7 linked regions of the Homo sapiens genome follow. The protein of the gene in region 5 purifies or fractionates together with the protein of the main gene of each other region. This does not show direct contact. Each region holds a gene or a part of one and is shown on either strand. Other genes may lie near its edges.

What was found.
Region 1: the proteins of NES (region 5) and CLTA purify together in Homo sapiens (affinity purification with mass spectrometry; one large-scale study listed by BioGRID and IntAct). This does not show direct contact.
Region 2: the proteins of NES (region 5) and NCAPD3 purify together in Homo sapiens (affinity purification with mass spectrometry; one large-scale study listed by BioGRID and IntAct). This does not show direct contact.
Region 3: the proteins of NES (region 5) and RNF13 purify together in Homo sapiens (affinity purification with mass spectrometry; one large-scale study listed by BioGRID and IntAct). This does not show direct contact.
Region 4: the proteins of NES (region 5) and CEP135 purify together in Homo sapiens (co-immunoprecipitation; one large-scale study listed by IntAct). This does not show direct contact.
Region 6: the proteins of NES (region 5) and SVIL purify together in Homo sapiens (affinity purification with mass spectrometry; one large-scale study listed by BioGRID and IntAct). This does not show direct contact.
Region 7: the proteins of NES (region 5) and SLC25A22 purify together in Homo sapiens (affinity purification with mass spectrometry; one large-scale study listed by BioGRID and IntAct). This does not show direct contact.

What each region holds. Positions count from the first base shown.
Region 1 is NC_000009.12:36,204,421-36,207,920, reverse strand, and holds part of CLTA (clathrin light chain A), read right to left. Parts: intron 3,201-3,500; exon of another isoform or gene 1-3,200. UniProt on the Homo sapiens protein: Clathrin is the major protein of the polyhedral coat of coated pits and vesicles.
Region 2 is NC_000011.10:134,213,968-134,217,467, reverse strand, and holds part of NCAPD3 (condensin-2 complex subunit D3), read left to right. Parts: intron 1-369; coding exon 370-532; intron 533-3,500.
Region 3 is NC_000003.12:149,956,215-149,959,426, forward strand, and holds part of RNF13 (E3 ubiquitin-protein ligase RNF13 isoform 1 precursor), read left to right. Parts: intron 1-3,212. UniProt on the Homo sapiens protein: E3 ubiquitin-protein ligase that regulates cell proliferation. Involved in apoptosis regulation. Mediates ER stress-induced activation of JNK signaling pathway and apoptosis by promoting ERN1 activation and splicing of XBP1 mRNA.
Region 4 is NC_000004.12:56,007,945-56,011,444, forward strand, and holds part of CEP135 (centrosomal protein of 135 kDa), read left to right. Parts: intron 1-382; coding exon 383-438; intron 439-1,790; coding exon 1,791-1,959; intron 1,960-3,467; coding exon 3,468-3,500. UniProt on the Homo sapiens protein: Centrosomal microtubule-binding protein involved in centriole biogenesis. Acts as a scaffolding protein during early centriole biogenesis.
Region 5 is NC_000001.11:156,674,608-156,678,645, reverse strand, and holds the start of NES (nestin), read left to right. Parts: upstream 1-1,238; 5' UTR 1,239-1,381; coding exon 1,382-2,164; intron 2,165-3,305; coding exon 3,306-3,430; intron 3,431-4,038. UniProt on the Homo sapiens protein: Required for brain and eye development.
Region 6 is NC_000010.11:29,526,972-29,530,471, reverse strand, and holds part of SVIL (supervillin), read left to right. Parts: intron 1-627; coding exon 628-767; intron 768-3,415; coding exon 3,416-3,500.
Region 7 is NC_000011.10:792,629-795,281, forward strand, and holds part of SLC25A22 (mitochondrial glutamate carrier 1), read right to left. Parts: exon of another isoform or gene 2,636-2,653; intron 2,542-2,635; 5' UTR 2,379-2,541; coding exon 2,359-2,378; intron 2,274-2,358; coding exon 2,148-2,273; intron 1,961-2,147; coding exon of another isoform or gene 1,886-1,960; coding exon 1,830-1,885; exon of another isoform or gene 1,825-1,829; intron 992-1,824; coding exon 901-991; intron 361-900; coding exon 242-360; intron 139-241; coding exon of another isoform or gene 100-138; coding exon 1-99. UniProt on the Homo sapiens protein: Mitochondrial glutamate/H(+) symporter. Responsible for the transport of glutamate from the cytosol into the mitochondrial matrix with the concomitant import of a proton. Plays a role in the control of glucose-stimulated insulin secretion.

The sequences.
Region 1 (3,500 bases), on a different chromosome or scaffold from region 5:
GCAGAATGAGTGGGAGGAAAAGGCAAGGCAGGCTGGCTTATAAACCCATAACCCTTTTAGTTTACACAAAGGACTAAACCTGATCGATTTCAACTTGGGTTTCCCTCCACAAGAAGAGTAGAGGTTTCATGACTCCTGTCAAATCATCACTAAGACAACAAAAGTTTGAATGTCAGGCTCTTGCTCCTTTGCAGCTAGCCCAAGACCAAAGAGCTCCTCAGTGACAAGCACATCCCCTGTCAAGGTTGCAGGCCCAGAACAAACAGAAAATCAGACACACACACAGGTGGCCCTCCCCTTATTTGTCCTTCACTTGAAAGTAGCAATCCTCAGCCAAGGCAGGAAGGGGCTCAGGGAGGCTTAGGAGAGGGGAGGGAAGAGGAATACCTGACCTAGGACAAGCTCTGGAGGCACGAATACAATGCAGAACTTCATTCCATAAACAGCCTCAAAGTGGGCACAGAAAAAAATGTTTGCCATCTCTGAGAACTGTGGGTTCCCCAAACCTTCTCAAGCCTTGAAAGAGCTGACAAGCACAAGTGCTACCTGTAATAGGGGAAATGTTCTGGGGTTGTTCTTGATGAGCAAACTCATCCAGCTGCAGGAGTCAGTCACTGCTCTGGCTGGCTGGCTATGAAAAGGAAATTCTTTTCCATGGCTGTCACTGAATAATTCACAGCTCTTGTACTGTGACACTTAGGCCTCAACTTGGGATAAAAGAAGGGAGATGCAGTCTGGGGACTGACAATAGAGTACAGCACACCCACCCCCAGTGCAGTGCCAGGCGCGACGTGCTCCTAGTGCTTTGGTGACCCAGTGGTGAGGCAGCTGGAAGGCAGGAGGCCTGAGGATGCTCTCACAATTAACTGGATGCCCTTCCTGTCTCCGACTTTCCTCTTTCAAACTTCTCATCTTTCTGCCTTATCTCTCGGGTCCCCTTAACATCTAGCTACTGCAGAAGTCACCCAGAGAGAATCATACTTGCTTGAAATGAGCACCCCGTTTTCTTTTTTCTTTTCTTTTTTTCAGACTGAGTCTCGCTCTGTTGCCCAGGCTGGAGTGCAGTGGCGCAATCTCAGCTCACTGCAACCTCTGCCTCCCGGGTTCTAGTGATTCTCCTGCCTCAGACTCCCGAGTTGCTGGGATTACAGGCACACACCACCACACCCAGTTAATTTTCGCATTTTTAGTAGAGATGGGGTTTCACCATGTTGGGCAGGCTGGTCTCAAACTCCTGACCTCAAGTGATCTGCCCGCCTCAGCCTCCCAATGTGCTGGAATTACAGATGTTGAGTCACGGTGTCCGGCCCCCATTTTCTTTTCTAAAAATATTCACTCTTTACCCATAGACAGATAACAAGGATGAATTACTTTATACATCTAAATGGGACCTATTCCTTTGAACTCTAAAGTTTAGAGTCAAACATGGATGGAGAGGGGGAGTAGTCAGCAATATAAAAATCTCCAGGGGAGGGTGTAGACCCTTGGAAGAAGTCCCCCAAAGTGACTCTCAAATGGATCCCACCTCCAACCAGTGAAGAATCACTGGAATAAACTGTAAAAACCATCTCTTCTGTCCTAGAGCCCTGGTGACAATGGCTAGTGTGCCACTAGCGTTATGCTCTCAAGAGTCAGCCCTGTGCTGCAAGGTTCCCACAAGGCAAGTGACCTGCTTCCTAAGCAGCTCTACATTCTCAGTGAGCAGTGGGGAAGTTCCTTCTCTCTGGAACTTAAGAGGTTCATCTGTGAGACCAGCTTACCCAGCATTCTACAGTTCCAAGTACAGAAAGGTACCAAGGCCCAAATTCAATGCCTGGAGGGACTAAACTTTTAAGACTGAGCTCCTAAAAACAGGTGTCATGGCCAGGCGCGGTGGCTCACGCCTGTAATCCCAGCACTTTGGGAGGCCAAGGAAGGCAGATCACGAGGTCAGGAGATCGAGACCATCCTGGCTAACACAGTGAAACCTTGTTTCTACTAAAAACAGAAAAAAATTAGCTGGGCATGGTGGCGGGCACCTGTAGTCCCAGCTACTCGGGAGGCTGAGGCAGGAGAATGGCGTGAATCCAGGAGGTGGAGCTTGCAGTGAGCCGAGATCGCACCACCGCACTCCAGCCTGGGCAACAGAGCAAGACTCCATCTCAAAAAAAAAAAAAAAAAAAAAACAGGTGTCATTACTCCCTCTGAGAACAACGGATTCTGTATACAGAGAATATCCCTTTCTTGACAGTTCAGCAAAACTTCCTTGAAAAAAATTTCTGCAACAGAAAGGCTGTTACCAACATATTCATTATCTAAGTTTGAAAACTTGTGTTAAGTTATTGACGCATCACAGACCCAGAGCGGGGAGGGTCGGCACAGCTACAGTACTTCAGACTAAACTTAAATGCTGGGGTCGCAGGCTGGGGGAGTTCTCAGGGCTCGCAGGGTGCTTGCACACAGTCCCCACTCGGCTTTACCGATCTGAACTTCCACCTGGGAGAAAATCATCTTGAGGGAGCAGAGGACACAGGAGCCTGGACCTGTCAGCACCACCTACTGACCACAGGCTCAACAACAGCCCCACGTAGCTGATGGAAGCCATCACCACTGGCAACCCAGCCTGCACACCAGAGAGCAGTCCTGTGGGACTGGGACTGTGGAGTCCTGTGGACTCCACATGGAACCTGACAGGCACTCCTTGAGCACACCGCCCCCAGAGGAAAGTGACCAGGACACAGGCTCAAGCCGGAATCCAATGAGCTGAAGGGCTGCTAGCATATAAAAGAGAGTCCAACTGCTCTGTCATACTGGACCCACAATAGCACTGGCTGGCTGGCAAAGCCGTTAGCTCTCTCTCCTGCCACATCTCTGTCTAACAGAGCTGCCAGAGACAAGGGCACTTAACCCAACCTGCTTCCTGCCTCTGCATACGAGAACCCAAGGCTCTACCCTGAAAATTAAAAATATCCCCAGGCTCGGTCTGGCCCGTTTATACACTGAAGTGAATGGATTGACTATTCAGTGAAAGTTGGGCTCTGAACCTGCCTGCCCTGAGGGAAGCAACACCACATATCCTCTCTTTGCTGCTTCCAAGAAGGGCTCTAAGTGTAGGGCATTAAAGCCCAGCTGCTGGTGAGTAGTGATATGAGAATGAAAGCGTTTTTCTCCTCACAACTCCTTAACCATCAGTAACTAAATAAAATCTATTTCAAACAGAACATTTTTAAGAAGTCAATTCAAGACTTTTTAAGGCACAAATAAGTACCCACAGAACCCTCAATTCTAAAATAATCATGTTGGAACATCCTTGGCTGCCTAATTACAAAGCACATATTCCTGCCAACGGACCCCTTCATGAAGTGGCTTTCAGGGGGCAGGGCTATATTGAGGAGACTCAACATGACCAAGTCTATAATCATATCCAAAGTAACTAGATCTGGGTGTATTCATGACACCCAGCTTTCGTTTCAGGGTTCCATGGAAAGTAACTTTTCCCTTGGCTGAATCACACCATTACA
Region 2 (3,500 bases), on a different chromosome or scaffold from region 5:
TTCCTTTTAATATAAATAGAGGGATAACTTTCCTGAATAATCACTAATATATGGTGTCCCAAAAGTCTTAGTGTAGTTTTAAGCTATAATTTCTGAAGTATATATGCTACAAACTTAACAAAAAATTCTTTTGAAAGTTTAATTATTTAAATATGTTATATACATATTTATCTTGGTAATTTTGAATAATATACCTTTAATTTTGATATTTTGTTTCAGTCCCTTTGAAGATGGTAAACATTTAGCAGTAGGAGCCAGGCTACTCTATTCCTCTTTTTGTAAGGCACCAAGAACTTACAAAAATCAAATAATAGGAAATGTTTCCATTTCTCTAATGACTGGCTTTTGTGATTTGCGGTCTCCCCACAGAGTATCTGGACCTTCTTCATTGAGAACAATGTTTCCCATAGTACACTGGTGGCATTGTTCTATCATTTTGTTCAAATAGTTCATAAGAAGAATGTCAGTGTACAGTATCGAGAATATGGCCTTCATGCCGCTGGGCTTTACTTTTTGCTACTAGAAGTACCAGGTATGTAGACCTGATATGATAGGATAAATCTTCTGTCATTTTTTTCTTTCTACAGTTTTCAATTCTTATACTTTGTTTCTTGTTTCTTCACTTATAAATGGGGCAGTGCTAACCCATGGCAGAGAGTTGTTGCGAGGAGCAAGTCTCTAAAGTACATGGCATGTTATAGGTCTTGGAAAACCTTCCCCCTTTTTTTTTTCATCCGAAGTTATGCTATCTATAAACTAATAAAAATAGTCTGAGAAGGAGTGCAAGAGTTCCACGCCCACCCTCCACCACGGCCGTCTAAAATTCTGATATTGCCCTTTCTTCTCATGATTCCTTGTCTAGACTGAGAAATACTGCTGTGGGGAGTCATTGCTTTTTACCTCTCCGATGTTGGTATTGAAAAATAGATTAAAACCATTCTAATCAAGAAAGCAGGAAAGCAGCTAGTAATACTTGAAGGAGAGCACTGACCAGGAGTCTGTTTTCGAGCACTGTTTTACTTGATTGTCAGAGCACTGAGGAGGCTGTTCCTCCTATGACAGTGAAATCCATTCTCTTCCCTACTCCAAACACAGGGTGAGAGAGAGTGGAACATAGAGATTGAGTCAGATAACCTGAAGTTCATATGGAAAAGAGAATGGCAAGATCAGTCACCTTGCTGCTTATCTTTGTTTAATTACAAATGTTTAGCAAAGGATTTATTCCATGTGATCTGGGAATGGGCAAAAAGGTCTTATATTTAAAGCCCTGAACATTGATTTGTGTTGTTGTTAATGCTCCCATCATGACTTTGGAAATGAGTAAGTTCCTAAAGGATTTTGTTGCTAAGCAGTGTCTCGGTTGTAACTAGGCCCTCTCTCAAAAAAGTAGTGGTTTTAGAAACCCAGTTTCACTCTCCTCTTGCCAGATGCAGTTTCTTCTGATTAAGGTTGAGATTTATGCCAGAGCAAAGAGGTGGCTGTTACTAATTGCGTGGGCCACTTGCAGCTTTCCAGCAAGCCGTATTCCTGCCAGTTACCTTCTGTTTTTAAATGTTTCGGGTTTATGATTGGGATGCTGTCGATACTTAACATTCGATCACAGTATATTCTTTTTCAGGATCGTTTTGGTTGTTCTGCCTCCCTTGCATTTCCATGTGAATTTTAGGATCTGTACGTGAATTTCTGCAACAATAAAAAAGCCAGCTGCGGTTTTGACAGGGATTGCATTGAAACTGTAGATGAGTTTGTGAAGTATTGCCAATTTAACAACATTAGGTCTTCTAATCCCTAGCCGCAGGATGTCTTTCCATTTATTGTAGATCTTCTTTAATTTGTTTCAATAATGCTCTATAATTTTTGGTGCGCAACTCTTGCATCTCCCCTTTAAAATTTATTCTTAAGTGTTATTTTCAATGCTAGTGTAAATGAAATTGTTTTCTTAATTTTATTTTGGTTTATTAGTACTGTATAGAAGCAAAATTGATTTTGATTATTGATCTTCTATCCTAGAACCTTGCCAAACTCATTTGTTGGTTCCAACAGGGTTTTCTTTGTGTAAGATCATGTCATCTGTGAATAGACACAGGTTTACTTCTTTCTTTCTAGTCTGGGTTCTTTCTATTTATTTTTCTTACCTATTTGCCCTGGCTAGAACCTCCAGTACAGTGTTGAATAGAAGGGGAGCGTGGGGATCCTTGTCTATTCCTGATCTTAAGGGGAAAGCATCCAGTCTTGCCTTTAGGTATGATGTTACCTGTGGGTTTCTCAGGATGGCCCTTATTAAGTTATTATTCCTAGTTTACTGAGTGCTTCATTATGAAAGGCTGTTGGATTTTGTCATTCGCTTTTCTGCACTTGTGAAGTGCTCATGTGGTTTTTGTTTCTTATTCTAATATAGTATATTACATTGGTTGATTTTCACATATTAAACCAATTTTGTATGACCTTGGTCATGGTGTATAATCCTTTTTATATGTTGTCAGAGTGTTTGCTAATATTTTGTTGAAGGTTTTTTGTCTATATTCATAAGGGATATTCTTTTTTTGAGATATTTTTGTCTGGTTTGAGTATCTGGGTATCTTGGTAATACCATTTTCATAGAATAAGTTACATAGTATTCCCTTCTCTTCTGTATTTTGGAAGATTTTGGGTTTTCTTTTTTCTTCAGATGTTTGGTAGAACCCACTAGTGAAGTCATCTGGGCCTGGAGTTTTTTGAAAGAAGTTTATGTTTGTAGAATTTCTAGTGATCTCCTCTCATGCCTGATGTTGGTGATTTGTATTTTGTTTTTTCTTGATCAATCTAGATCGAGATTTATTCATTTTACTGTTCATTTTGGAGGGCCCCCTTTTGATGTCATTAATTAAATTCTGTTGTTTGTCCCTTTCTTGTTTCATTGATTTCTGGTCTTATGTCTACGATTTCCTTTCTTCTTACTTTGGGTTTAATTTGCTCTTATTCTGACTTTTTAAGGTAGATGCTTAGATCTTTGTTCTCACATGCATTTCTTTGTTTCTAATACAAGTATTTAATACTATAAATGTCCCTCCAGGTACAGCTTCATCTGCATCCCACAAATTTCGATGATATGTTTTTACTGTTGTGCAGGCCAAAGTGATTTTCAAATTTTTCTTGTCATTACTTACATCTCTGAGTTGTTTAGTAAATTGAGTTTATTTTCCAAATATTTGAACTTTCCTGAAATCTTACTGTAATTGAGTTTTAATTGGTGGGATCAGAGAACATACTTCATATGATTATGATACTTTTAAATTATTTAGTTGTGCCTTTTTTTTTAATGGACTTAGAGTCTAATTTGGTGAATCTTCCATTTGCACTTTAACAGAATGTGTACCTTGCCTTTGTTGGATCTAGTATTCTGTAAATGTCAGTTAGGTCAAGTTGGTTACAAATGTTATTCAAGACTTACATATGCTTCCTGATGTTCTGTTTATTTGTTCTATCTGTTGTTGAGAGAGGAATGTTGGAATCTCTAAGAA
Region 3 (3,212 bases), on a different chromosome or scaffold from region 5:
TGCTAAAAACTACATGGGGCAGGACTAGATGGGAGACCAGAGAGGAGGCTCTTAGCATAATCTAGAAGATTAGACCAGAGTAATCAAGGTGATGGAGAGAAGGGGAAAGATTCAGGACATGTTTTGCAGATAAAAGGTTCCAGGATCTGGTGACAGATGGTATGAAGGCTCTAAGCAAAAGAAGCATCAAAGATAGGCCTAGGCCTGATATTTAGTTCATGCCACTGCCTTGGCTACCTAGGTCTTTGTGTGAGTCTTGTTATGAAGGGCCAATACTTTTCTGTATCTGATGAGCCAAAGTTTTGGGCTTGAAATGGGGAAAAATCATGGATGAACAAGTTTAAAGAGGAGACAATCTAAGTTCTGTCCAGCTACATGTTTTAACATTCCCAGATTGATGAGATTTACTTTAAAAGTACCTTCATGAAATTTTTCTGAAACTTTATTCTACAGCAGTTCCAAAAACATTCCAGACAAAAGTGTGTCTTATTGTTTCATATAACAGACATGAATCTGATTTCTTCCACAACTTCTGACATCTTATCCACTAGTGAATTAGCAAAGTTTTGTTAGCCTGCAGGGGTTTCTATGAGGGTTTCTCACCCTCAGCACTACTGACATTTAGATGGGGTACTTTGGTTTAGGGGGCTGTTCAGTACATTATGGGATGTTTAGCACCATCTCTGGTCCACAAGATGCCAGCCGCAACTCTCAGTTATGAAAACCAAAACTGTTTCCAGATATCACCAAATGTCCTTTGGGAGCAAAATCATCCCCAGTTTAGAACCCAACTCATGGTGCTAATAGTAACAAAACTAACACTTATAAAGCACTTGTTATAGCCCTTTTATAATACTACCAGAGCCAGTAGGTAATGTTTAAAATCTTATAAATCATAAAAATAGATAAATGCCTTTAATTTCTATTTTAAATGTAATTGTAAATCCACTCAACAATTGATGTTGGACCACAGCCTTTTGAGTATGAATCCACTGGCTGGATTTCCAAATTGCCATGGTACATGAAGCATTTTCTACCATTTTTAGTTTCAAGTATTTTAGTGGGGGAAAAACTGGATTCTGCTTTCATCCTTGCTTTCTACATTTGTCCAGTCTTTTAGTTTTTTTACCCATACCCAATTTAACCACTTTTTGACTGGGGATGGGTTGAGGGGAGCAACTAGCTTTTTTTTTAAAGTATTTCTAATGCATTCAACCTAGCTTTCAAATAAAACCAGAAGTCTTTTACACTCACAGTTTATGGACTGCTGAATATTTAACTAAATTACATAATTACCCTAAGTAAAACAAACAGGTTCAATGACCACTGCCACTAGCCTTTTGTAAGCATGCAGCTGATCATCTGTTGGGACAAAAGCATAAGGTTGGTTAGAGAATAGCCTCCTAGCCAGTCTTCTACCATGTGATAAGTAAGTATGCCTATCGGCTAGTTTTACTAGGTAAAAATTGGTTAAGAGGTATTGTATGTGCGAAACACCATGTAAATTACTCTACTTGCATTATCTCTTTTAATCTTCACAACAACCCTAATACATAATTATGTTAATGTTTGTGTTTTGCCTTTGAGAAAACAAACATAAAGATAAGTGTTTTACATAAAGTTACATAGCTAATAAAAGGACCAGGATGGGAACCTCAGGCATTCTAATATGTGCTTTACCATTTCATCACAAGTCCAAGGCCATAAAGGTTAATTTGCTACAGAGCACTAAGCTCCAGTTTGGTCCATGATCACAAACTGTACCTTGGAATCTTGACCTGTCATCTTCAAACTAAGTGCTACGGCAATAAAATATGGGATATTAATATAAATCTACTACTTGGAACAATTCAAAGGATTGATAAGAAAGCTCAGTGATTCCAAATCATCAAGTCTATACATTTAAAGATAACCCAAATATACCTGTATTAGTTTCCTATTTATTTGATAACAAATCAACAAAAGCTTAATGCCCTAAAACAACAAAAATATATTATCTATAGGTTAGAAGTTTGACACAGGTCTCACAGGGCCAAAACCAAGGTGTCAGCAGGACTGTGTTCCTTTCTGGAGGTTCCAGGGAAGAATCCATTTCCTTACCTTTTCTGGCTTCTGGAGGGCACTCAATTCCTTGACTTGTGACCCTTCTTCCCCCTATCTTCAAAGCCAGTAGTTGCATCTCCCTGACCATTCATCTGTAGCCACATCGCCCCGACTCTGAATTTTCCTGCTTCCTTCTTCCACTTTTCAAAACCCTTGTGATCACATTGAGCTCACATGGATAATACAGGCTGATCTCCCTACCTCAATAAAATGAGCCTTAGAGCCTTGGCACAGCTTTGAGCCACAGTCAGTTCCTGTTCAGCTACATTAACTGTTTTGTTTTTAGTAGGCGTTTTCAAAAGGTGATGTGACTCAAAGGTTGATTTGTATGAGAAATCAGTCATGATTGAATTGCATAACTATCTGTCCTCAAAGTCCATGTAAATAGATCTATGTAATTATAATTAAAAACAATAATTGCAGATATATCAGAGGTCCTTTAGTCTTCTAATAGTTGAGTCTAATAAGTCTCACCAAATTCCACACACAAGATTCTAACACATGTACATATGCATTTGTTACAGAATGTAATTTAGATACTATAGTAACCAAATTCAAGGTAATGGACAAAACTTAGTAATTTTCATTAAAGCTTTCTATTTCGGGCTTCTCCTGAATGTGTGTTTTAAATGACTAGGACATTAAAGGGATTGTTTCAGAAGAACTATCAGCACCTTTTTTATGTGTCATGTTCATCCAGACTATCCATCCAGATAATTGCTTTATTTCTGATATGTCTTCCAAGGTTGTTACCCCGTGTGGGATAGGCAATGAATTTAACTGTCTTTTGTCCCTAAAAGTTTTATAAGTTTTTATCTAACATATTCATGTAGTGGAAAAAAACTCACAAAAGTGCTTTCAAGCATTCACAGTGGTGTCTAAGCCACTATTAATTGAAAAAGCTGCTGTATTTAAAAAAACTGCTAGTTCCTGTGAACCAAGATCATGCCACTGCACTCCAGCCTGGGCCAAAAGTGCGAGACTCCGTCTCCAAAAACAAACAAACAAACAAACAAACAAAAACTGCTAGTTCCTTTAAAAACTTAAAAAACACTGGAACTCCAAAAAGAGCTATGAATTAATAAATTTCTATGATTATAAAACTGATA
Region 4 (3,500 bases), on a different chromosome or scaffold from region 5:
TTTAGACCCAGAAGTTTCCCAAATATGCAGTTATTATTGGCCATGTAGAAGTTTCTAAGACCTAGGGCCATATTTTCTAATGTTTAAATGTCATTTTTTTCAAATAATGTTAATCTTCAAAATGTGATTTTGTCTATTTCTAGAATGTGATTTTATCAGATCTCATTAAAGCAAACTCAAGAAAACTATTCAAGGGTTGGTCAAAACATGCCAGTATGTGAAGTATGATTGGGACATGGAGATATGTTTACTTGGAGCTTTGTTTTAGGCATACTTTATATAATTGAGCTGTGTATTTGAACTATATGAATATGACAAGTTACATAAATTTAGCTAAAGACATTTTGGTTTAAAATCTTACACATTTTTGTAATTTCTATAGGAAAAAGCTGTTGCTCAAATGAAGATAATGATCTCAGAGTGTGAATCATCTGTGAAGTAAGTCATTAATGAAATTACATCCAGCTTTTTAGGAGATTTTCAGTGAATACAGCTTTATCTATTCAGTAGCATTGCAGCAATAGAAGAATTTCCCTTTCAATTTCCCCATTTTTGTCAATGGTAGCATCATTTTCTCAGTCTCCAGCTTGAAAATGTTATCTTCTTTAACCTCTCCTTTTCTGTCATCCACATCTAAACACTTATGTCTTATTAACTATTCTCCTATATACCTATTTGTTCCTTATTTTTACTATAATTATGCCACTTGGAGCCTAATCATTAAAACCTAAAATTACTTTAGTAGCCAATCTCGAATTTATTCTCCATCTAAACCTATCTTGAGCACTGTCACAAAATTTTACATTTTATGTATAGTCTCTCTAGGCAGATTGTAAGCCACTTCAAGAAAAAAGTCACTTATTATATTTATTTTACATACCCTTAACATTTTATATAATAGTGGGGATTATAAACATTTAATAAATATTTGCCAATTGAATCTATGCTTTACTTTTTGTTTGTTTGTTTTTGAGACAAGGTCTCACTCTGTCGCACAGGCTGGAGTGTAGTGGCGAGATCTCTGCTCACGGCAACCTCACCCTCCCCAGGCTCAGGTGATCCTCCCACCTCAGCCTTCTGAGTAGCTGAGACTGCAGGCGTGTGCCACCACGCTCAGCTAATTTAAAAAAAAATTTTTGTAGAAACAACGTCTCCCTATATTGCCCAGGCTGGTCTCGAACTCCTGGGCTCAAGCTATTCAACTGTTTTTGTTGTTGTTGTTGTTTTTTGTTGTTGAGACGGAGTCTCGCTCTGTTGCCCAGGCTGGAGTGCAGTGGGGCGATCTCGGCTCATTGCAAGCTCTGCCTCCCGGGTTCACGCCATTTTCCTGCCTCAGCCTCCCAAGTAGCTGGACTACACGTGCCCGCCACCACACCCGGCTATTTTTTTTTGTATTTTTAGTAGAGACGGGGTTTCACCGTGTTAGCCAGGATGGTCTCTATCTCCTGACCTCATGATCTGCCCGCCTCGGCCTCCCAAAGTTCTGGGATTACAGGCGTGAGCCACCGCGCCCAGCCCCCAAGCTATTCAACTTTTAACACTTGAAAGTTTTCTGTGTTTACTTGACTGTTGGAATAACATTTTTTTTTAACTTCATTTGCATGTAATTATTGGTAGAGCTCTAAAATACCTGTTCTACCTAATTAATAGGTCTCTTAATGCAGCAGTTATAATTTCTTATAATCACAGTATATTTGTATTCTAAGTATACTTAGACTATAAGTTTTCTTTTAAATGAACTACAGTTTTTAAAAGTTTTCTTTATTAGTTTCACATCACTCATTTAACAGCCAGCTGAAAGAAACATTGGTTAATCGAGATCGTGAGATAAACAGCCTCCGGCGCCAGCTTGATGCAGCTCACAAAGAACTCGATGAAGTAGGAAGATCTAGAGAAATCGCTTTTAAGGAAAACAGAAGACTGCAAGATGACCTGGCTACAATGGCAAGAGAAAATCAAGTATGAACACAAGGCATAAATTTTGATAGTTTTATACTTTCCATTGTTTGCTAAATATTAAAGCTCTAAATATTTTTTCTAAAATCTGATGATATAAAAATAAGTGACATAAATAATTCATTAAGGACAATGGTGTTTATCAGGGTATTAAAAAATGGAGCTTAGGCCGGGCGCAGTGGCTCACACCTGTAATCTTAGCACTTTCAGAGGCTGAGGTGGGTGGATCACTTGAGGTCAGGAGTTCGAGACCAGCCTGGCCAACATTGTGAAAACCCCCCCCCCACCCCCATCTCTACTAAAAATACAAAAATTAGCCAGGCCTGGCGGCATGCGCCTGTAATCCCAGCTGCTCGGAAGGCTGAGGCAGGAGAATCACCTGAACCTGGAGGCAGAGGTTGCAGTGAGCCGAGATCGTGCCACTGCACTCCAGCCTGGGCAACAGAGTGAGACTCCATCCAAAAAAAAAAAAAAAAAATGGGCAACAGCGTGAGACTCTGTCAAAAAAAAAACACATAGCTTAGAATGCTGCTATATATCACAGGGTGTCTAATGGGTGCAACTGGTCTTCTCACCATTTTGGTCTTTGTTGCAAGGAAACCTAAAGGTGGGAGCATGAAATTCTGTATGTCAGAAATCATTGTCACCCTACCGGGCGAGGACATCAGCATCCCTCCCAGAGCAAAGTTTCTGTGTTTTAAAGACTCAGGATAGGTTTTAATTATTTGTGCAAGCTTCTGTCGGCTCCAAAATACACCTGTAGATAAATGAATGAGTGTTTTAGAATGGCAAGTACTGAAAGGTGTTAGTTCTGTTCGTGCTGGTTTCTTAAAAGATTGTACTGAGAAAACCAGTGATTTTACTGTTTTAAACATCTTACGTTTTTAAAAAATTATTTTCCGTATTATTCAGCATAAAGCATATTGATGAAATATGAATGTTTTTTAATGTCAACCCCTGACCATAGCTAGCCTTTAGTGTAAATGCCAGATACATGATCAGGACTATTATGGGAAATGTGTGATAAAGTTTGGTTAAAAAGTCAGTATCAGACCAGGCGTGGTAGCTCACGCCTATAATCCCAGCACTTTCGGAGACCAAAGTGGGAGGATTGCTTGAGCCCAGGAGTTTGAGACCAGGCTGGACATCATAGTGAGACCTCATCTCAGAAAATTAAAAAAAAAAATTAGCTGGTATGGTGACATGTGCCTGTGGTCTCAGCTACTCGGAGGGCTGAAGTGGAAGGATTGCTTGAGCCCAGAAGGTCGAGGCTGCAGTGAGCTGTGATCACGCCATTGCACTTCAGTCTGGGCGACAGAATGAGACTCTGTCTGAAATATTTTAAAAGGCAAGATCAGCCAGGAAAAATATGTGAAAATAACACTTAGGAACAGTTTTCCTTTTGCCCTACTCTATCTTATTCTCCAATTCCAAAGGAATTATTTGAATATAAATAAAATTTATTTGGTGTTGTGTTCATTTTAGATTGTCTTTAATTTTCTGATTTGTAGGAAATCTCATTGGAATTGGAAGCAGCAGTGCAA
Region 5 (4,038 bases):
AGTTCCTGCAATCTCTTTGGTGCTGACACATAGTAGGTACTCAATTAACACTTGAGCTAAATTGGATTTAGCAGCTTGATCAGAAACGCCTTCCCCAAAGATCCCCTCCGTCTCATTATCCCTGCATCTCCTCCCCAGCCCTACTTCTCCTTCACTGTAAATCCCCCAAATCCCACCTGTCCTTTACCTCCCAGCTCAAGGATGCACTCCGTCCAGAAAGCCTTCCCTACTACTCTCACCCTTGGTGAGCTCTCTACTTCATAAACTGTAGAATCTTTAAAAGGTTGTTTTGAAGATTAAGTCAGATCATGGAAGTAAAATATTGGAACACGACTGGGCACATCATAAAGGCTGGATAAACTTGGGCTAGTCGTTAGGAAGGAAAAGAATGGCCTCTTCCTGCTGCTTCCACTTCTGAAAGCCGCCAGAGGGCGTCCACTACCCAACATTCCCTGGCAGGGGGTGCGGGAGAAGGGGCCCTTCCCCAAGAACAGAACTTCCTAAAGCGGATGTTTGAACCTCGCAGTTATACAGAAGACTTGTAGGAAGGATGGACAAACGTTCTTAAGCCCATGACGGCCCTTAACCTGGTCGCTCCCTTTTCTGATGGAGACTCAGGCAATAGCGTGTGTGCGTGTGTGTGTGTGTGTGTGTGTGTGTGTGTATCCGTGTGTCCTAATATCAGACATTTGTTCTTGTTTTCCAGGCAGCGTCTCTCTAGCTTCTTTCTGCAATGCTGTAGTACTCTCTCCAGTATTTCAGGAGGAGGAGCATTTGCTATTTCAAAAACGAAAAACAAAAACCTGGCCACATCCATTTTTTTCAGCAGCCATGCGATTTCCATCATTGCTCACATTTTATGGATGAGGAAACTGAGTCTTAGAGGAATTCAGTAAGTGATACCTCTCTCGGATGTGTTGAGTAACTGAGACTGCACTCCCTCCCAGGCTGGAACGTCCTGGTACTCCCACCCCCACAGGCTCAGTTCTGTGCATTATCTGCCTTTTTCGGGGATTGTGACCCTTCTTCACAGCCTCCTCCCTCAGAAAGCCACCACCATCAGATCCGATTCTCCATGGTACAGCTTCTTCTTTGGTTCCACTCTCCAGCACCCTGGGGAAGCAGGAACAGAGGCTGCTGCCACTCTCTGACCTCTAAGGGGTTAAGGCCTGGGTCCCGCCCCTCTTCCCGCCCGCCTGGCGGGAGTATGAATAGCCTCGCTCCCACTCCCGACTCTCAGTCGCTCAGGCTACTCCCACCCCGCCCCGCCCCGTCATTGTCCCCGTCGGTCTCTTTTCTCTTCCGTCCTAAAAGCTCTGCGAGCCGCTCCCTTCTCCCGGTGCCCCGCGTCTGTCCATCCTCAGTGGGTCAGACGAGCAGGATGGAGGGCTGCATGGGGGAGGAGTCGTTTCAGATGTGGGAGCTCAATCGGCGCCTGGAGGCCTACCTGGCCCGGGTCAAGGCGCTGGAGGAGCAGAATGAGCTGCTCAGCGCGGAGCTCGGGGGGCTCCGGGCACAATCCGCGGACACCTCCTGGCGGGCGCATGCCGACGACGAGCTGGCGGCCCTGCGGGCCCTCGTTGACCAACGCTGGCGGGAGAAGCACGCGGCCGAGGTGGCGCGCGACAACCTGGCTGAAGAGCTGGAGGGCGTGGCAGGCCGATGCCAGCAGCTGCGGCTGGCCCGGGAGCGGACGACGGAGGAGGTAGCCCGCAACCGGCGCGCCGTCGAGGCAGAGAAATGCGCCCGGGCCTGGCTGAGTAGCCAGGTGGCAGAGCTGGAGCGCGAGCTAGAGGCTCTACGCGTGGCGCACGAGGAGGAGCGCGTCGGCCTGAACGCGCAGGCTGCCTGTGCCCCCCGCTGCCCCGCGCCGCCCCGCGGGCCTCCCGCGCCGGCCCCGGAGGTAGAGGAGCTGGCAAGGCGACTGGGCGAGGCGTGGCGCGGGGCAGTGCGCGGCTACCAGGAGCGCGTGGCACACATGGAGACGTCGCTGGGCCAGGCCCGCGAGCGGCTGGGCCGGGCGGTGCAGGGTGCCCGCGAGGGCCGCCTGGAGCTGCAGCAGCTCCAGGCTGAGCGCGGAGGCCTCCTGGAGCGCAGGGCAGCGTTGGAACAGAGGTTGGAGGGCCGCTGGCAGGAGCGGCTGCGGGCTACTGAAAAGTTCCAGGTGAGGAGGTTGAGGGCCTGGGTGAGAGAAAGTCCCAGAAAGCTCCAGAAAGTCCCTTATGAAGCTCAGAGACCTTCTGGGAAGGGAGTGGGGCTAGCTGGCTGCTGAATCAGGAGCCAGTTCTCAGAAACCTGGTGCCACAAGTCCTAGACTTTTACAGCCCGTCTAGTGTAGGATGCGAATGGTGGGGCTTCTCGAAGCACATCCCGGGTGGGCAGTCAGGCCCAAGACCCGTTGCAGCAGCCCCGCCACTCTCTGGATGGCACCTTCTGGCTCTGATGATGACCGGGGCTCCGGGTCCCTTCCCAGGCTCTGGTATTACTAGGAGGACACCCAGCACTGTCGCCTCTGCGCTGAATCTGGTGGCCTGGCCACTCAGAATCACCAAGTTCCTCACAGCCCTCCTTCTCCTGAGGGGAGGAGTGAGGGGCCGTGAATGAATGGCTACCAGCCCCCTCCCATGTCATGGCTTCTCGGCTCCCTGGAGCACATTCCAGAGGCCCATAACAGCTGCTCCTTCTCACAGGGCACAGATGTGACCAGCAGCTGAGAAAACAGCTTCTTGCCTGGGCCACACAGAGGTGCCATGGCCACCTCCCCATCCCTCCTCTCAGAGGAGACAGAATCCAGAACATGTGGGAAATGGGGGTGGGGCGGGGGTGAGAGCCTGCTGTGAGGAGCAGGAGACAGTTGTGGGAGATGGGACCAACGGGGGACGGGGGCTGTTTGCCTTCCAGTCCTGCAGGCTCCAGGCATCTTGATTAATCGTTTTTCCTTCTGCTTTCGCTTTTTTTTCCCCCTCTTCTCTCTCCATAACCCATCTCGTCTCCTCCCTCACCTCCCCTTCCTGTGGGAGCTGTGTTCTGAGCAACATGTGCTACCATTTAATCAGCATCCTCAGAGGAGGAGCAGGCCATGGGAGAGAGCTGAGAGTGCTGACAGGGGCCCTGGGCTCATCTTGGCTGATCCAGAGGGGGCTCTCTGGGCAGGGAATAGGGTAGGGGAGGCGGGGGTCTGCTACACAGATAAGTCAGCCAGGGAGCAGGAGGTGCTTCCCGGGCAGCGGCAGCGGGCAGGAGGCAGGTTGGTTCACAGAAGGGACCCCAGCCCCTCCACTGACTGCCTCTCGCCTGCCCTGCAGCTGGCTGTGGAGGCCCTGGAGCAGGAGAAACAGGGCCTACAGAGCCAGATCGCTCAGGTCCTGGAAGGTCGGCAGCAGCTGGCGCACCTCAAGATGTCCCTCAGCCTGGAGGTGGCCACGTACAGGTACGAGACGAGCCCTGTCCACCCAGGCACACAGAGGCACACACACATGCTGGGGCAGACTACGTGGCTGAAGGGGACCAGAGGTGTAGGTGATGGCAACTCTGCTGCCACTGGGTTCTGTGACTCTAGGCTGGTCACTTCCACACCGGAACATGTCCTGCCTGAAACCGTCTGCTCCCCCATAGGCTGGAGACCTGAGCAATGTCCTGTGCCCAGGAAATCCCCCCAGGAGAGATGATATTGCCGAGCGGGACAGCCTCTGGAGAGGGGCTGGGCCCGTGTGGGGCAACTGCATCCAGACCCTTCCCCCAAGGGGCAAAGCTCCAACTCTATGTGTGCCCGCACCCAGGGGGTCATGTCCTTTGGCAGCCACGGAAAGGAGGCATTGCAGGCATGGGGTGGCTGCACTGACTTGCCACCTGACCTGGGCCTCAGCCTCGTCTAGGGGCTGAGGGCTGGGCTGGGGGACTTCCAAGGCCTCTTCTAGCCTGGATGTCATGGGGCGAGACTCCTCTGATGCCCCTAGTGCCCTTGGTCCTGCCCAGCCTTTCATTGTCCACATTTTCTGTTATCCTAGAAATGGCTGAGACCAAGGAGGGGTGGCTTCT
Region 6 (3,500 bases), on a different chromosome or scaffold from region 5:
CTCAAAAAAAATAAAAATTGTAAGCCTTAGGGAGGGGGAATCTTGTGGACCCAGCCTACTTCATGCACCTCTGGGCATGCTAAGGCCCTCCTGCCTCTGGCCCACCTGTTGTTCTCTTCCTAATCTTTGGCTGGTTGTGGCCACCTCATGGACACAGCATGAGTGTACACTTCTGACAACAATACGAGGTGCTCATTAGTGACCCCTCCTGTAGGTCCTGTAGGAGAACAAAGTGAAGAATTTTTACTACCCCCATTTCCTTTCCTTGAATTTCTTTGTTATTTTTAATTTTTTTTTAGAGATAGGGTCTCACTCTCTCACTCAGGGTTGAGTGCAGCAATGTGATCATAGCTCACTGCAGCCTCAACTTCCCAGGCTCAAGTGATGTTCCCACCTCAGCCTCCCAAGTAGCTGGGACTACAGGCCTGTGCCAGCATGCCTGGCTAATTTATGCATTTTTTGTAGAGATGAGGGGGTCTCACTTTGTTGCCCAGGCTGGTCTTGAACTCTTGGCCTCCAGCAATCTTCCCTCCTTAGCCTCCCAAAGTGCTGGGATTACAGGCGTGAGCCACCGTGCCCAGCTCTTTCCTTGAATTTATAAGGGTTCCACAATACTTCTAATCTTAGGAGATGGAAAAATCTTTTGATGAACAAAATGTTCCAAAGCGACGCTCAAGAAACACAGCTGTGGAGCAGAGGCTACGCCGTCTGCAGGACAGGTCCCTCACCCAGCCCATCACCACTGAAGAGGTGGTCATCGCAGCCACGTAAGTGCCCACAGGACTTCTCAGCCTTGTCTATAGTGTCTTTTTTTAAAAAAATACATTTAAAGAGTGTTCAATGAAAATGAGGCATTGGGGAGGTGATTTAGCTAGAAGCCACAGAGAAGTTAGTACTAAGGGATTTTGTTTACTGTGGTCTCTCTAAACTTTGTAATGGGATGTGTATCTTCTAGAAAAACTTGAAAGGAGTTTTTGTTCTATTTTGTTTCTGTCTCTGCATATTGATATTTTAAAAATCTCTTTGACAACGGAAAATAGAAACATGAAACTTGGTGGATTGCTGTGATGAAACCCCAGCTTCCACGGTCACCCGCTCCTGGCCGGTGATGCTCAGCCCGTGTGCCATTCATTTCCCCTTTCCTCCTGTGCTATTTTCAAGCAAACACTAGAGGTCTTACCATTTCATCCATAAATATCCCAGTACGCCCCTCTAAAAGATAAGGTTTGTTTTGTTCTTAATTGCCAGAAATCTCTTTTCTTTTTTTCTTTTTTTTTTTTTTTTTTTTTTTTTTTTGAGAGAGAGTCTTGCTCTGTCACCCAGAACGGAGTGCAGTGGCATGATCTCGGCTCACTGCAACCTCCGCCTCCTGGGTTCAAGCGATTCTCCTGCCTCCACCTCCCGAGTAGTTGGGATTACAGGCATGTGCCACCACACTCAGCTAATTTTTGTATTTTTAGTAGAGACGGGGTTTCACCATGTTGGCCAGGCTGGTCTCAAACTCCTGACCTCAGGTGATCCATGCCTCAGCCTCCCAAAGTGCTGGGATTAATTGCCAGAAATTTCTAAAAATTAAATTGCAGTTTGATAACTTTCCAAACAATAGGAAGTTTGTTTTGAATAATATGTTTCAATATATTCAGAATTAATTTCCCAGAGTAGTTCATTCAGAGATCATTGCTTCAATCAAGTGAAAAATTTTCTTATTTTTGCGGGGGGCATTGTTTGTTTTTTTGAGGCAGTGTCTCACTCTGTTACTCAGGCTGGAATGCAGTGCGCCATCTTGGCTCATTACAGCCTCAACCTCCTGGGCTCAATTGACCCTCCAACCTCAGCCTCCCAAGTAGTTGGGACTGTAGGCCCAACCACCACACCTGGCTAATTTTTGTATTTTTTGTGGTGATGGGGTTTTGCCATGTTGCCCAGTCTGATCTTAAACTCCTGGGCTCAAGCGATCCTCCCACCTCAGCCTCCCAAAGTGCTGGAGCTACAGGCGTGAGCCACTGTACCCAGCCTAGTTTTGTTGTTGTTGATGTTGTTAATTGGTTTTGTGCTTACCTTGGACACACAGACACCCTTCCTGGAAAAAAAAATAGTTCATCCCATTAGGTTATTGACATCCCAAAAGGCCTCTATGTCAGTGCCCCGTTCTGTAGACCTGCTGTTAGATCAGCTGCCTACAGTTCCTCCCCGAGTTGTTCCTCAGTTTCTTGGTGCATTTGTAGCTAAGTATATCCTTGCACTCATTAGGAACTCTTTGCAAATCAGTTTGTTTTTTAAAAAAAGAAATATTTGAATGGCTGGTGTAAAATAACAGGCAGATACCCATGGGAGCAAAACAGTAAATATAAGAAAAATTAATCCCATTTTAAGGCTCAATAAATCTACCTTGATGTGCCTATAGATTGTATAAGAACACTGATACTTTTAAAAAGTAGATTGAGGCCGGGTGCAGTGGCTCACACCTGTAATCCCAGCACTTAGGGAGGCAGAGGTGGGTGGATCACCTGAAGTCAGGAGTTCAAGACCAGCCTGGCCAACATGGTGAAACCCCGTCCCTACTAAAAAATACAAAAATATTGGCCAGGCATGGTGGCGCACGCCTGTAATCCCAGCTACTCGGGAGGCTGAGGCAGGAGAAATGCTTAAACCCAGGAGGTGGAGGCTGCAGTGAGCCGAGATCGCGCCACTGCATTCCAGCCTGGGCGACAGAGTGAGACTCTGTCAAAAAAAAAAAAAAAAAAAAAGGCTGGGCCCAGTGGCTTACACCTGTAATCCCAGCACTTTGGGAGGCTGAGGCAGGTGGATCACGAGGTCAAGAGATCAAGACCATCCTGGCCAACATGGTGAAACCTCATCTCTAATAAAAATACAAAAATTAACTGGGCGTGGTGGTGCGCGCCTGTAATCCCAGCTACTCAGGAGGCTGAGGCAGGAGAATCACTTGACCCCGGGAGGCGGAGTTTGCAGTGAGCCAAGATCATGCCACTGCACTCCAGCCTGGTGACAGAGACAGACTCCATCTCCAAAAAAGAAAAAGAAAGAAAAAAATTAGATTGGAAACAATATTCTAAAACACAGACATAATCTACTGATTTTTTGATAGCTAATATTTGCTTTTTTGAATTATTATTTTTTTTACACCAAGACATGTATTCTCAAGACAGAGTAAATCCTCCCAGCTCTGAACACCTATTCTTACCCCATTTGCTTTGGGTAGCCACTATCTCTTATTTCCTGAGTTTGTATTTGCTTTTGAAGTTCTTTCGTGATTTTTTCTCCCCAAAAATAATTAGCAAAATATTCTGTTAAAATTTTTGATTTAACGTTTCTGAATTTAAAACTATGCTGTCCTTAATGCTTCTTTTCTTCTCTCTCCTTATGAATGTTTCCTCTTTGGCAATTGCTTTTAAAGTGAACCTATCCCCGCTTCGTGTTCTGGGGGCACCCACCCTGTAATGGCGAGACTTCCTAGCCCCACTGTAGCTAGGAGCGCTGTG
Region 7 (2,653 bases), on a different chromosome or scaffold from region 5:
TGGCCGTGGGCCGAGGGGCAGCTGGAGCCTCCACTGAGGGCTGGGCACCCCCCTGGGCCGAGAGCTGGCCCTGGGCAGCCAGGATCTTCCTCTGGGCGGCTGGGGACAAAGAGGCTGCTGTCTCCTCTTCTGTGCGAACTGGGCAGGGGACACGCTCTGGCCCTCCCTGCGTCCCCACCCTCCCCTCGCCCTCACCTCTTCCCGCACCTCTGCCCTCTCCTCCCCCTCCCCCCGCCCTCACCAATGCGCCCTGCATCCTGCAGCTGGATCTTCAGCATCTCCATGGGCGTGGTCACGATCACCTGGCAGGTGCCAGCCCCACAGCCCGCCAGCATCTCTTTAAGCAGGGTCAGCTTCTGCCTGTGGTAGGGGCGGGGCCGCAGTAAGTGGGAAGAGACAGGTCTACCTGCCACCCTCGGGGCTGCCCACCATGCCTGGGCGCAGAGGATGGTGGGAGCCGTGGAGGCAGATGCAGGCCTGTGGGGGTACAGCCCCCAGCCTCCGCCACTGCAGCAGCAGGCAGGGAGGAGACCGATGGACAGACGGCCCCACAGGCAGGGGCCTGGGGAGGGCAGTGGGGCTGTCTGCGACAAAGGAAAATGGGAAATTGGGGGTCAAGTGCCCCAAAAAGGGGCTGCCCTTGCAGTCCCCCTCCAGTGATGGGGGAGCTGGTCAGTGCCCTCAGGCCAAGGGCTACCAAGCCAGAGCCCCACTGATTTGACATCTGCTTTGCTCCCCTGGTCAGGGGAAAGGAGGGAGGGTGCCCCACGAGGTCAAAGAAGCCCCAAGCAAGGGGCTGAAGACAGGCAGAGCCCCCAGGTGGGACCCAGCTGGCAGGGTGGACCCATCCTTTATCTGAAGCCAAAGACCCCTCGAGTGTCTGCCAGGCAGAACCCTCACCCGTCCTTAGAGAGCTGATGTCGGAAGAAGTCGTTGGCTGCCAGCTTGATGGCCTTCTCGGGGGTGACGAGGGTCAAGTTCACAGCAGCTCCTGTGGGGCAGGGGGTCAGCTGGGGGGACATGCTCGGTGGCCTGAGTGGGGAGGCGCTTGGCCAGGACTTGCCTCCTGGCTGGCAAAACCCTGTCCCAGTCACTCCTGGCCACCATCTGTTCTCTCACCCACATTTGGGCCTGGTGTGTGCCAGGTGGGGCGGGGCCAGGCAGGGATGGGGCAGCACCTCAGGCTCAGGCTCTCCCATGCCCACTGCAGCTCCATCTGTCTCTGATTCTGGGCAGCATCTTGCTGCTCAGGGCATGAGGACTGCCCCGGAGCCCCTGAGGCCTCCCTAGGATACCTCTCCCTCCCTGGAGGACAGATGGTGCTTGTGCTGGCAGGGGGCTGGGGCCAGAGGTCACAGGAGTGTGTGGTCTGGACTGGGCCAGAGCTCGGGGGAGGCTGTGGAGAGCCCCCATCTCAGTGCCGAAGGCTCAGGGCTGGAGAGCTTCTGCCAAATCTAGGCTCTGGATTGTGTCCTAAGCTGCTTTGCGGTAATGCCCCTTACTCCCTCCCATCCCCAGCCACAAACGGGGTCCAGCCTGGCCCAGAAGGCAGAGGCAGCTGTGGCCACCAGAGAAGAGACAGATGTACCATGGCATCCCACGCACCAGGCACTAAGTGGGGGTGGGGAGCTGCCACGGGAGAGGCTGAGAACTACCACTCACCAGAGATCCAGTCCCCCCTGCACAGGCACAGCCCCCACAAACACGTCCACGCTCACACACCAGGCCCAGGCTGGCCGCCCTGCCCTGCCTCCCCCACCGCTCCCTGCCACGACTCGCGGGCGCTACCCAGGCCTGCCCATATCGAGCCCAGCCGAGCCAAACCTCACCCCGGTACATGCCGAAGTAGCCCTCGGAGCGGACGGTCTTGATGAGGCAGTCGGACCTGTGGCCAAGGGGACAGGGTGAGCCAGGGCCAGCTGGGGCCAGCCGGAGGCCAGGGTCCCTGGACTGTCTAGGGCTGATAGAAGAGGCCAAGTCCTCAGCCCAGCCCCGACCCCAGTCCTGACCCACGTGGGATCTCCCCTAGGCCCGCCTGCCTCCCGTTTCCCTTCTGTCAAACAGGGTGGGGGGCACAGGAGCAGAGCCCCCACCTCTCCTGCTGCCACATGCTGGGCCCACTCCCCGCGACCGCCCGGCACACTCACATGCTCGTGTACACGCGCTGGCCGTTCTGCTGGTTCTGCAGCCTGGTCTTGGCCAGGTCGATGGGAAACACGCAGGTGACACCGATCAGCCCGGCGATGCCGCCATTGATGAGCTTGGCTGGCAGGCTGTGTGGACAGGGGTGTCAGGACCGGCTTCCTTGACCATGGGTCAGGGTGGGGGTGAGGCACGCAGCCAGGACTGGAGTCTGACCTGATCTGCTTATCAGCCATTTAACTCGATTGCACCCAGGTAGGAGCCGCAGAGGTGGACGCCAGGCCAGGCGGGGTGGAGGTGGAGGTGGAGGAGGCCTTGAGGGAGGGTGGGACCCAGGGGGGTTGGGTGGTGCTCCACCTTCAGGGGAATTTCCAGGCGTCAGCAACCGCCACTTCTGTCCTAGAAGGATGAGGGAATGGGAATGAGTGAGGGTGGGGCCACCCGAAGAGTAATCCTCCCCCAGCCTCCCTCTCTCACGCAGCCCCTCACCCACCACCCCAGACTGAAGCCG